Linked DNA regions of Homo sapiens. The protein of the gene in region 1 purifies or fractionates together with the protein of each later gene. This does not show direct contact. Each region holds a gene or a part of one and is shown in the gene's direction. Other genes may lie near its edges.

Evidence for each region.
Region 2: the proteins of MPHOSPH6 (region 1) and ZFC3H1 purify together in Homo sapiens (affinity purification with mass spectrometry; 3 studies listed by BioGRID and IntAct, with this or other methods). This does not show direct contact.
Region 3: the proteins of MPHOSPH6 (region 1) and DIS3L purify together in Homo sapiens (affinity purification with mass spectrometry; 3 studies listed by BioGRID and IntAct, with this or other methods). This does not show direct contact.

Annotation. Positions count from the first base shown.
Region 1 is NC_000016.10:82,168,145-82,171,969, reverse strand, and holds the start of MPHOSPH6 (M-phase phosphoprotein 6), read left to right. Parts: upstream 1-1,745; 5' UTR 1,746-1,794; coding exon 1,795-1,845; intron 1,846-3,825. UniProt on the Homo sapiens protein: RNA-binding protein that associates with the RNA exosome complex. Involved in the 3'-processing of the 7S pre-RNA to the mature 5.8S rRNA and play a role in recruiting the RNA exosome complex to pre-rRNA; this function may include C1D.
Region 2 is NC_000012.12:71,662,373-71,666,197, reverse strand, and holds the start of ZFC3H1 (zinc finger C3H1 domain-containing protein), read left to right. Parts: upstream 1-2,349; 5' UTR 2,350-2,587; coding exon 2,588-3,185; intron 3,186-3,375; exon of another isoform or gene 3,376-3,825. Other genes in the region: THAP2 (THAP domain-containing protein 2), read right to left, coding at 1,618-1,688. UniProt on the Homo sapiens protein: Subunit of the trimeric poly(A) tail exosome targeting (PAXT) complex, a complex that directs a subset of long and polyadenylated poly(A) RNAs for exosomal degradation. The RNA exosome is fundamental for the degradation of RNA in eukaryotic nuclei.
Region 3 is NC_000015.10:66,324,568-66,328,167, forward strand, and holds part of DIS3L (DIS3-like exonuclease 1), read left to right. Parts: intron 1-1,263; coding exon 1,264-1,797; intron 1,798-3,600. UniProt on the Homo sapiens protein: Catalytic component of the RNA exosome complex which has 3'->5' exoribonuclease activity and participates in a multitude of cellular RNA processing and degradation events.

The DNA of each region.
Region 1 (3,825 bases):
ACTTTGTCTTGTTCATATCTGAGGACCTTTACAGTTGATGCTGTCTTCTGAGCACACTCTACCTCCAACTCTTCATAAAACACGTTTTTCTCAACTTTCAAGCCTTAGCACCATCATCTGACAAGGGCCGTTCCAAACCACCTGGTCTAAAGTAACCCTAAGCGTTACTCTGTCACATCACTGTTTTCTCTCTTTCATAGCAGTCGCCACTTACTTACGTCCAGAATATCAGCTTCAGGAAAGGTGGGGATATGTGTTTTTACACGCTATTATACCCCCGGCATCTCACACACAGTCACAAGTGAATGAGATTCTGTAGCCACTTGGTACATTACAATGATTTTATTTACCCCTGGGAAAACCTAAAGGGCTTTTAACATCCAAATCGGTGTTTGAATTTCAGCTCTAACATGGATTAGCTGTGTGAACACCAAGTGCGTTACCCACTCTGTGTCTCAGAATCCTTAACAACACGATGACAATACCTTCTTTCCGGTTCTTATGGGGATTAAGTGAACTAATTAGCCCTAAGGTGACCAGGTCAACAATCTGACGTAGAACTCATGGTATCAGCCGAGATGCTATTAGCTTGAGGGTGTTCCAAAGCGTCGGACCTGGGAATGGTTTTCGAAAACGTGTTTAGGTGGTACCCAGAGCATTAAACACCAGGGTAGGAACGCTACCCTATTTTCAGTGGTTTTTTAAATTCTTTTTTGTTTTGTTGTTTTGTTTTTGAGACAAAGCCTCACTCTGTAGCCCAGACTGGAGTCCAGTGGCGGGATGTCAGCTCACTGCAGCCTCGACGTCCCGGGTTCCAGTGATTCTCCAGCCTCAGCCTCCCAAGTAGTGGAGACCACAGATCCGTGCCACCACACCCAGCTATTTTTGTTGTATCTTTTGTACATTTTTTGTATATTTTGTATATATTTTTTGTATGTATATTTTGTATATTTTTTGTGTATATATATATATATATATATATATATTTTTTTTTTTTTTTTTTTTTTTTTTTTTTTTGTAGAGGTGGGGTCTCCCTATGTTGCCCCTCGCTATGGTCTTTTCAATTCTTTGGATCAAAACCAGGCTTTGTTCTCATTCATGTGTCTTTGGCACCCATCCCTGCCTCCATCCCTTGCCATTTCTTGAGATTCTTCTGTTTAGCAGAGATCACTCGGCCAGACACGCATCGGCAGCAGCCTGGGAATGAAGCCAGCCTGCCTGGGGCGGCCCCCGCCGCGCTCCCCCGGGACTCCGGGCTGCTGTGAGGAAAGCAGCAACTCGTGGGGTCCTGGTGAAGAGAAAACGACCTGGACCCTGCAAAGCGACCCAGAACAAAGGGAGCCCGCCACCCACGTTATGAAGACAAAACACGTGGGTAACACGGCCCAGGCGGGTGGCAGGCGTGGCGGAAACCTCTCTGAGGCTGGCGAGGACTACTGAGTGTGGAGGGGGTCCCTGAGGAAGGGAGTCCCCGAGGGAGGATGGGCCTCCGAGGGGGCCAGGCCGACGTCCCGGGAAGGCGACCCGCGGCTCGGGGAAGCCAAGTTCTGGGTCGTCCTCTGACTTCGGCTTTTTTGCGGTCTGCCGCGCTCATCCCCGCGCCCGCCACCCCGCGAGCTTACCCGAGCCTCTCAGTCAGCAGAGCGCCCGCTGAGTGGCCGCGCCCGCGCGCAAGACACAGGGGAGGGGCGGGGCGGGGCGGCGCGCACTACGCGAGGGACGCAGCTGCGCACGCGGCTCCGCGCATGTGCGGTGAGGCTCGCGGCCGGAGTGCGGCGCTGGGCGGAAGCTACCATGGCGGCCGAGCGAAAGACAAGGTTGTCCAAGAATCTACTGCGCATGAAGGTGCGGGGACGCTGAGAGCGCCACTCCGGGCGGTAGGGGCACCCGGTCCTTCCAACCTGGCCGGGGCCGAGGCGGCGGGCGGACAAGGGACACCAGAGAGGCCTCAGAGGGCTTCCAGCTCTCGTGCTCATTCATTCACTTAGCGCCTGCTCTGCACTGTTTACTGGGAACCAGCTTACGAATTAGGCCGACTCTCTCAGGAGGCCCGCGGGCGGATGGGAGCTTGAGTACACAGAAGCAGTCAGGGTACAGCTTACCCAGTGCAGTGAGGGTAGAAGCGCTGGGGACCTTGGGGACTCACCGAGCTTCTCGAGAAGTTGTTGCTTACTTATATATGCAATAAATATGATATATGGGAAGTGTAACTCCTTAGCTGGGTAATTTAGGTAAATTCACTTCTTTCTCTGAATATCTCTTTTCCTCATCTTTAAAAAGAAGAGCATTAGGCTACATGAGTTCAAGCTCCTTTTTAATTTTGATAATACTTCTTTTAGTAGAGTTCTTCAGAGAAACAGAATCAACAAGATGTATATGTGTATATATGTGTATGGAGAGAGGGGGTATTTTTAAAACTGGATCACACGACTGTGGAGATGCAAGTCTAAAATCTGCAGGGTGGGCCAGTAGGCTGGAGACCCAGAGAAGTACTCAGTCCAAGTCCAAAGACAGTCTGCTGGCAGAACTCCCTCTTCTTCCAGGGAGAAGAGGGTGAGTCTCGCAGGGTAGTCTCTAGGTTACTGGGAGGGTGGAAGGCACAGCGTCCTAAACTAGGAGAAACTGAGTTCAGAAGTCTGAGAGGCAAGAAAGAAAAAGAAAACCATGGAAATTTCCAAGAATTAGAGACAATTCAGTATGTCTGGAAGGCAAGTACTAAGAAATGGGGTTGCAGAGTAGGCAATGGTCACAACGTGCAGGGAATTTGAGGCCAGATTAAAGATATTTTCCTTTATTTTGTGAGCAATGGAAAGCTATTGAAACGGGGAACAGTATCAAGAAAATGGCAAATATTTATAGTACTAGACAATGATTGAAGTGGTTTGCGTATATTAACCTATGCAATTCACATAATGACACTTTGAGGTGACTACAGGCAGTAACTCTCTTCTTACAGCTAAGGCAACTGAAACAGAAATAAGTAATTTACCCAAAGTTACACAGCTAATAAGTAGTGTAGACAGGACGGGAATTCAGGCAGTCTGGCTCCAGAACCCTGGCTCTTTATTACTACTCTGTACTCTGTGATGCCTGTCACTAAGCACTACTTCTAGAGAGTAGCAAACTGTTACATGTCATGTTTAAAGAGGTGGAATTTCCAAAAGAGGGAAGGAAGCATTCATAATGTTTTGAAAGATAGGCCATTCGCAGTGGCTCATGCCTGTAGTCCCAGCACTTTGAGAGGCTGAGGTAGACAAATCGCTTAAGCCCAGGTGTTTGAGACCATCCTGGGCAACATGGTGAAACCCCATCTCTACAAAAAATACAAAATATTAGCCAGGCCTAGTGGCACGCACCTTTAGTCCCAGCTACTTGGGAGGCTGAGGTGGGAGGATCACTTGAGCTTGGGAGATCAAGGCTGCAGTGAGCTGAGATGGCGCCACTGCACTCCAGCCTTGGTGACACAGGGAGACCCTGTCTCAAAAAAAAAAAAAAAAGAGAGAGAGTAAACATTATATGGGCAAGATTTGAATGGAGTTGAGCTAGGATGGAGTTAGGGATGAATGGGTGAATGAGGGTGGAGGACAAATTGCAGCATAACTTAGAGTTTGTCAAGCACTTTCATGCATATTAGCAAAATTTGAATCTTTACTGAACAGAGTTTGATTTTATGGTTGGTAATAACATTAACTTCAGAGAAGTGGAGTGAATTGGCCAAGCAGATATTGGAAAGATTTTAGCAGTTGTTTTAGCTCTTGGAATAAGCCAGATGATGTACTGGGTGACTCAGGCTCAAACTAAATATCCGAGTTGCAACTAAGAAGA
Region 2 (3,825 bases), on another chromosome or scaffold:
CTCTCATCTATCCAATCAAATTACTAAATTCAGTAGTTTCTCCTTGAACATTTCTCCAATCTGTCCCCTCCTCTCCATTTCTACTCTAATATCACCCTAGTCTAGAAATTTGGGTGGACTTTCCTTGTTTTATTTACTACAGCTTCCTAACTAGTTTTTCTCTGTCAGCTCACACATTCCCTAATTCAATGCTGATTGTGCCAGCAACTGAGTAAAGGGTTTAGTTTAGTTGACATTGTAGCAAGATTTCCCTGTGAAGGAAAAAAATAGGTAAATTAATATTCTGTAATAAGTTCCTTTCTCATCAAGTTCATTCCCGATGATGCTTGACCAGCACTTTCAGTAACACTACGATTCTCTACACTGCAGCCAGAGGACTTTTCAATATGCAAATCTAATCGTGCCATTCTTTTTTAAACCCTCCATGGTTTCTCAAGTACTCTTAGGATAAAACAGAAAATACTTAAGTAGCACACAGGACCCAATCTGTCATCCTTTGGTCTCATTTGAAATGTCACATCCTTTGAAAAAGTGTTCTTTGACTTTCCAAGACTAAGTTAGGTCTCTGAATGTTTCTTCTGTGGCACTTAATTATTTATGTCTTTCTCCACCATTAAATTCTAAATTCCAGGAGGGTTAGAACTTTCTGGATCCTTAGCACAATGTCAGGTAATTAGGAACTCCGTACATATTTGATGGATGAATGAACAAAGCACTACATATGCATGAACTAGTTTAAAAACAGAAACATCACAAGATTTTTTTTAAGTGGCAGCTTTTAATAAAAGTACAGTTCGTAATAGGTAGGGAAAAAGGTCAAGGATATAATTTCTACATACTAACATATACGTTGTTAGGTATATAAAATATATAAAATCAGGACTGGTGTCACTTAACTTTTTAATGTGTCTTTTCTTCGGGCACGTGGCAGGCACTTGCAGAGAAGGTAAACATTTACAGAGTACCTGTTATTTTCCAGGCATTGTTCAAAGTGCTTTCAAGAGTTCTGGTTTGACAGAACTAAAGAATTTTGATTTTTCTTCCAGCAAACAAAAGAAAACCTAGGTTCTTTTTATTACTCTATTCTAGTAAGAACAGAAAGGTTATCTTTTGCACTTTAATTAACATCGCTTAATTCCATGGCTATCAAAGATGACTCAATTCCTCCGCAGAATTACTATGTGACTATTAGAAATCTAAATGCCTCCCATGTCAATTCATCTAGTGAGAATTTCCTAATTTTAACGGGAACACAGCAGGCTTTTACGGTGATTGCTGATTGGGAAGATCTCTTTCTCCCTTACGGCGTCATTCATGTCAAGGCCCGGTCTAACAGAGGAATAAAACAGTAGAAAATTACGATATCCTCCTGTTACTTTTTTTTACTAAGGGGTAATGACCAAACAGTACTTGGATTTCTTTTAGAAAATGAGTAAAGCTTCCCCGAAAGCAGAGAACAATTGGGCAGATTTGAGAAACACAAAGGACATACGATGCTTCCCTGCTACCAGCTGGGAAAGTTATTAGAATTAGCAGAATCCTCCTGTTCCTTCCACACAAGCGATAGCCACAATAGGAACTCCAGTTTCCGTCACCCCCACTCCCTGCCCAGGTTACCTGTGGAAGCTGATGTTAATGTGCTTGTTGTAGGTAGTGGCACAGCCCGCCGCAGCGCAATTGGTCGGCATTTCCCTTTCCCACTCATTCAGCGCCCTTAGGTCTCTACTGAGGCGCTGGCTGCTAAGCTTTCTTCTGGCAGAGGCTGGACAATCGAGGCAGGCGTGCCTTAATCGTGAGAGCTTAGTCGTGAGAGCGGAGTGGGAAGAAGGGGTGTGTATGTGGGGGCGGAGGCGAAGGACGGTCAGCCTTCCCTTTCTCTTTATTAATATGGCCGACTAGAGCCCACAGAACTGGCCCTCCTGGAGCTCTAGTCGCCTTCGCTTGACTTCACCAACATGGCGGACACAACCCGTTCTTTCTCCCCGCCCCCAAGAGGGAGCGGATCTACTGCGTTTCTTTGGCAGCGGTCCTCAGAGCAATTAAAAGGAAGAGGTGTTTTCCCCTCCGATTACTATAAATTACAAGAGTTTTACAATAAAACTCTCTCAAGGCTGCAACAGCAGCTCCACCTACTTCTGCATGCACCCAACTGTACCAAGCCAGACCCTGCGGTGGGTGTGACCCTAGGACCGGAAGAGTAAACCCGAAGAAAGACGAAAGACTACAAATCCTAGTGAGTATCGAGTTGGTCTTATTATCGCGTGAACTGGGAGCCTTTGTTTCCTGCGTGTCGCAGGAAGTGACGTTTCGGGTACAGCCGCTACCAGAGTCCCTTTCTCGCGAGGCGGAAGAACCCCGATCGCTGAGGAGCAAGGGGGCGCTAGGAAAGGGAACTGGGTTGCGACGGTCCGGCGAGAGAGAGCTGGGGTGCTGGGGTGCGGGGAAGTTGGGGAGCAGAGGCCGCTTGGTGTCCGAGTAGGGTAAGACCGCACCGACCCAGTCCGTTAGGAAAGAAGGGAAACGAGGCAATTGTCGGGCGGATCCCCGGACGGAGGGCTAAGGTTGTGTGGAAGGCGCTGCTCCCCGGATGGCGACCGCAGATACTCCGGCCCCGGCCTCCAGTGGCCTCTCGCCGAAGGAAGAAGGGGAGCTTGAAGATGGGGAAATCAGTGACGACGATAATAACAGCCAGATACGGAGTCGGAGCAGCAGCAGCAGCAGCGGCGGCGGGCTGTTACCCTATCCGCGGCGAAGGCCTCCTCACTCGGCCCGGGGCGGTGGATCTGGCGGAGGCGGTGGCTCTTCCTCGTCATCGTCCTCTTCTCAGCAGCAGCTGAGGAATTTCTCACGCTCGCGGCACGCGTCTGAGCGGGGCCACCTCAGGGGACCCAGCAGCTACCGACCCAAAGAACCGTTCCGGTCTCATCCGCCTTCTGTACGGATGCCTTCGAGCTCACTGTCCGAAAGCAGTCCCCGGCCGTCTTTCTGGGAGCGGAGCCACCTCGCCTTGGACCGTTTCCGCTTTCGAGGCAGGCCTTACCGGGGTGGGAGTCGCTGGAGTCGGGGGCGAGGAGTGGGTGAGCGAGGAGGCAAGCCGGGGTGCAGACCTCCTCTGGGAGGAGGAGCAGGATCCGGGTTCAGCAGCAGTCAGAGCTGGCGAGAGCCCTCTCCACCTCGGAAGAGCTGTATCCTTAACGTGGCGGTCGGCGCTGGGTGTGTCACTAAAGTTCCCTTTAGCGTCATTACTAGGTCTGTGAGACGAGTGTAACTTTGAATCATCAGAACCGCTTATTTCTCCCTGTGTCAGTATACTTTAAGTTGTTCTTTGGTAATTCCCCATGTGTCACACTATAGCGTTATTCTTAAGACTGCTTCATTGGGTATATTAACGTGCTGTGGATTGGGTTAAGCTTATGAAATCTAAGACAGTTAAGTCTGATTTGTAATAATACCTTAGAAGCCCAAGTTTCATTAGCATTTGTATTTTTGCTGGTACAGAAACTTTGTGTTTTATATGAAGTTGACTTGGATTGTTAGAGAAAAAATATTCATAAACAGTTTAAGTAATATTGTTGCTTTATCATATTGCAGTTTGACGTTGAAAATTGTAAAGTTTTAATCTGCACAGTCCTGCACTATTTTTGTGATTCTGTTTTTATCTTGATTTATTCCGGTTGCTGCCTTTTAAAGTGGGGGGGGGAGGGGTAAAAAAAAAACAACTCTGGTGTCTTTACCAAGTCTGTTTCAGAGCTTTTTGATTCATTTGATCTTTTTGGAACACTTTACCTCCTTTACGTTTCTATCTGTGTTCACTTTTGCACATTG
Region 3 (3,600 bases), on another chromosome or scaffold:
GATCAATATAATCAAATTGCCCTTCTTAAATGTTACACCAGTTATATTCCTGTCACCAATGTATGAGAGTGCATATTTTCCTATAGCCTTGCCAACACAATATGTTGTATTTTTTTATCTTTGCCAATTTGATAGATGAAAAATGGTATCTTAGATTGGTTTTAATTTGCATTACAAATAAAGCTAACCATTTTTTCGTATGTTTGTCACTTATGTATCCCTTTCTGTTAACTATATTCTTCGCCCATTTTTCTTTTGGATTCAAGATCAATTACTGATTAATTTGTAAAAGCTCTTTACATATTAGGAAAATTAGCCCTATGTTTTTTATGAGTTCCAAATGTATACCTTTTTTTTAAATAAAATGACTTGGTGGCAAAGAGTTTTTTTACTAAATGAAATTTTTGCTAATTTATCTGTCATCAAGATTGATATCACAGTTCAGTGCCATCCTGTAGGATTTGCAAGACTTTGCTCTAATTTACTGAGCTAAAAAGACTTGACTCTATCAGTGTCATGCTTTTCTAATCAAAATAGAGGACATGGCCGGGCACGGTGGCTCACGCCTATAATCCTAGCACTTCGGGAGGCCAAGGCAGGTGGATTGCCAGAGCTCAGGAGTTTGAGGCCAGCCTGGGCAACACAGTGAAACCCCGTCTCTACTAAAATAGAAAAAATTAGCCAGGCATGGTGGTGCACGCCTATAGTCCCAGCTACTCAGGTGGCTGAGGCAGGAGAATCACTTGAACCAGGAAGAGGTAGGTTGCAGTGAGCCGAGATCGCACCACTGCACTCCCACCTAGGCAACAGAGCAAGACTCCATCTCAAGAAAAAAATGGAGGACATAAAGTAAGGTTTGTAATGTCACATATGAACTCATTTCAAATTTGTTCAGAGCTCAACAGTCCCCAGTCTAACTTTGTTGTTTTAATTTAAAATATTTTTTGATTTAGTTGTAAGGTGGTTGGATTGACAAACCAGAAACCTGTAGCTTTGTAATTTCTTTTAAGTTACAGTTAGGTCAAATTCCACTTGCTTCAAAAATAGAAGACTTAGGTGGGGCATGGTGGCTTACACCTGTAATCGCAGCACTTTGGGCAGGAGAATTGCTCAAGTCCAGGAGATTGAGGCAGCAGTGAGCAGTGATCATGCCATTGCACTCCAGCCTGGGTGACAGAGCAAGATCCTGTCTCAAAAAAACAAAAAACAAAAAAAGCCAGATGAATTTGAATAGTGATGTTGTCAATGTTACTGTTTTTGTAGGTATGCTGTAAGCATCATGTGGGAACTGGATAAAGCCTCTTATGAAATTAAGAAAGTGTGGTATGGCAGAACCATTATTCGATCAGCATACAAACTGTTCTATGAAGCAGCCCAAGAACTACTGGATGGAAACTTAAGCGTTGTTGATGATATTCCAGAATTCAAAGACTTGGATGAGAAGAGCAGACAAGCCAAGCTGGAGGAGTTGGTGTGGGCAATTGGAAAGCTGACCGACATAGCTCGCCATGTCAGAGCTAAACGAGACGGATGTGGTGCCCTGGAACTGGAAGGGGTAGAGGTTTGCGTACAGCTAGATGACAAAAAGAACATTCACGACCTCATCCCCAAGCAGCCCCTGGAAGTCCACGAGACAGTGGCTGAATGCATGATCCTGGCCAACCACTGGGTCGCCAAAAAGATCTGGGAGAGCTTCCCTCATCAGGCCTTGCTGCGCCAGCACCCTCCTCCACACCAGGAGTTCTTTTCAGAACTCCGGGAATGTGCTAAAGCCAAAGGCTTCTTCATAGATACACGGTATTCCTCTTTTGAGGGGGCAGAGGAATGGAGTGGCATGCTGTATATTTAGTTATCTTACAGTTGTTCTTAAAATGTGACAGCCAGATCTTTGACCAAAAAGAGAAAACAGATTCTTGGCTCTCCTCATTTTTGAAGACACATTTTTCCCTCTTCATTGTTATGTATAGAGACTTAAAACAAGTTTATTTAGGCATAATTTTGTTCCTTGGTTTTTTGTTTCAATTTTTTTTTAGATAGAGTCTTGCTCTGTCACCCAGGTTGGAGTACAGTGGTATGATCTCGGCTCACTGCAACCACCACCTCCCAGGTTCAAGTGACTCTCCTGCCTCAGGTTCCTGAGTAGCTGGGACTACAGGCACACGCCACCATGCCTGGCTAATTTTTTTGTATTTTTAGTAGAGACAGGGTTTCGCCATGTTGGCTAGGCTGGTCTTGAACTCCTGACCTCAAGTGATCCACCTGCCTCGGCCTCCCAAACTGCTGGGATTATAGGCATGAGCCACCACACTGGACATTTAGGCATAATTTTGACCCACTACAATTTGGGTTTTTTTGTTCGGTTGGTTTTTTTTTTTTCTTTGAGATAGAGTCTCGCTCTGTCATCCAGGCTGGAGTGCAGTGGCACAATCTTGGCTCACTGCAACCTCCGCCTCCCAGGTTCAAGCGATTCTCTTGACTCAGCCTCCTGAGTATATGGGATTACAAGCATGTGCCACCACGCCTGGCTAATTTTTGTATTTTTAGTAGAGACAGGGTTTCACCATGTTGGTCAGGTTGGTCTCAAACTCCTGACCTCATGATTCGCCCGTCTCGGTCTCCCAAAGTGCTGGGATTATAGGCATGAGCCACTGTGTGTGGCTGACCCACCATAATTTGTAATACAGAAGTAGGGAACCTGTTAGTTACCCTTGATTTAATTTCATGTACCCCTTAAGTTACAAAGAAATAATCCTATTTATTTCAGTACTTTTAAAATGCAGCATCTTTGTGACAATATCATAAGATACTACACCAACAGTGAATTTATACCACCCTCAATTGAGTGAGACATTTTTACTCCCTATCTCTAGGATAAAATACTTCTTTCATTAAAAACCAAGTATAGGCAGGCTGGGCACAGTGGCTCATGCCTGTAATCCCAGTACTTTGGGAGGCCGAGGCGGGCAGATCACGAGGTCAGGAGATCGAGACCATTCTGGCTAACACGGTGAAACCCCATCTCCACTAAAAATACAAAAAATTAGCCAGGTGCTGTAATCCCAGCTACTTGGGAGGTTGAGGCAGGAGAATGGCATGAACCCGGGAGGCGGAGGTTGCAGTGACCCAAAATCGCACCACTGCACTCCAGCCTGGGTGACAGAGCGAGACTCTGTCTCAAAAATAAATAAATAAATAAATAAAAACTAAGTATAGGCTGGGTACAGTGGCTCACACCTGTAATCCTAGCACTTTGGGAGGCTGAGGCAGGCACATCACTGAGGTCAGGAGTTCAAGACCAGCCTTGCCAACATGATGAAACTCTCTCTGCTAAAAATACAACGAGCCAGGCATGGCGCACTCTTGTAATCCCAGCTACTCAGAGGCTGAGGTGCGAGAATCGCTTGAACCTGGGAGGCAGAAGTTGCAGTGAGCCAAGATTGTGCCACTACACTCCAGCCTCTGTATGGTCACTGTATGAGCTGTCTGCATGCCAGGCACATGGGACAAGGGCTTTCAGACATCCTCTTGGTTAATTCTTAATGCTGAGGTGATGGCAGCATCATTCATATTTACAGATAAGTCAATTAAGTCTGAAGAGAT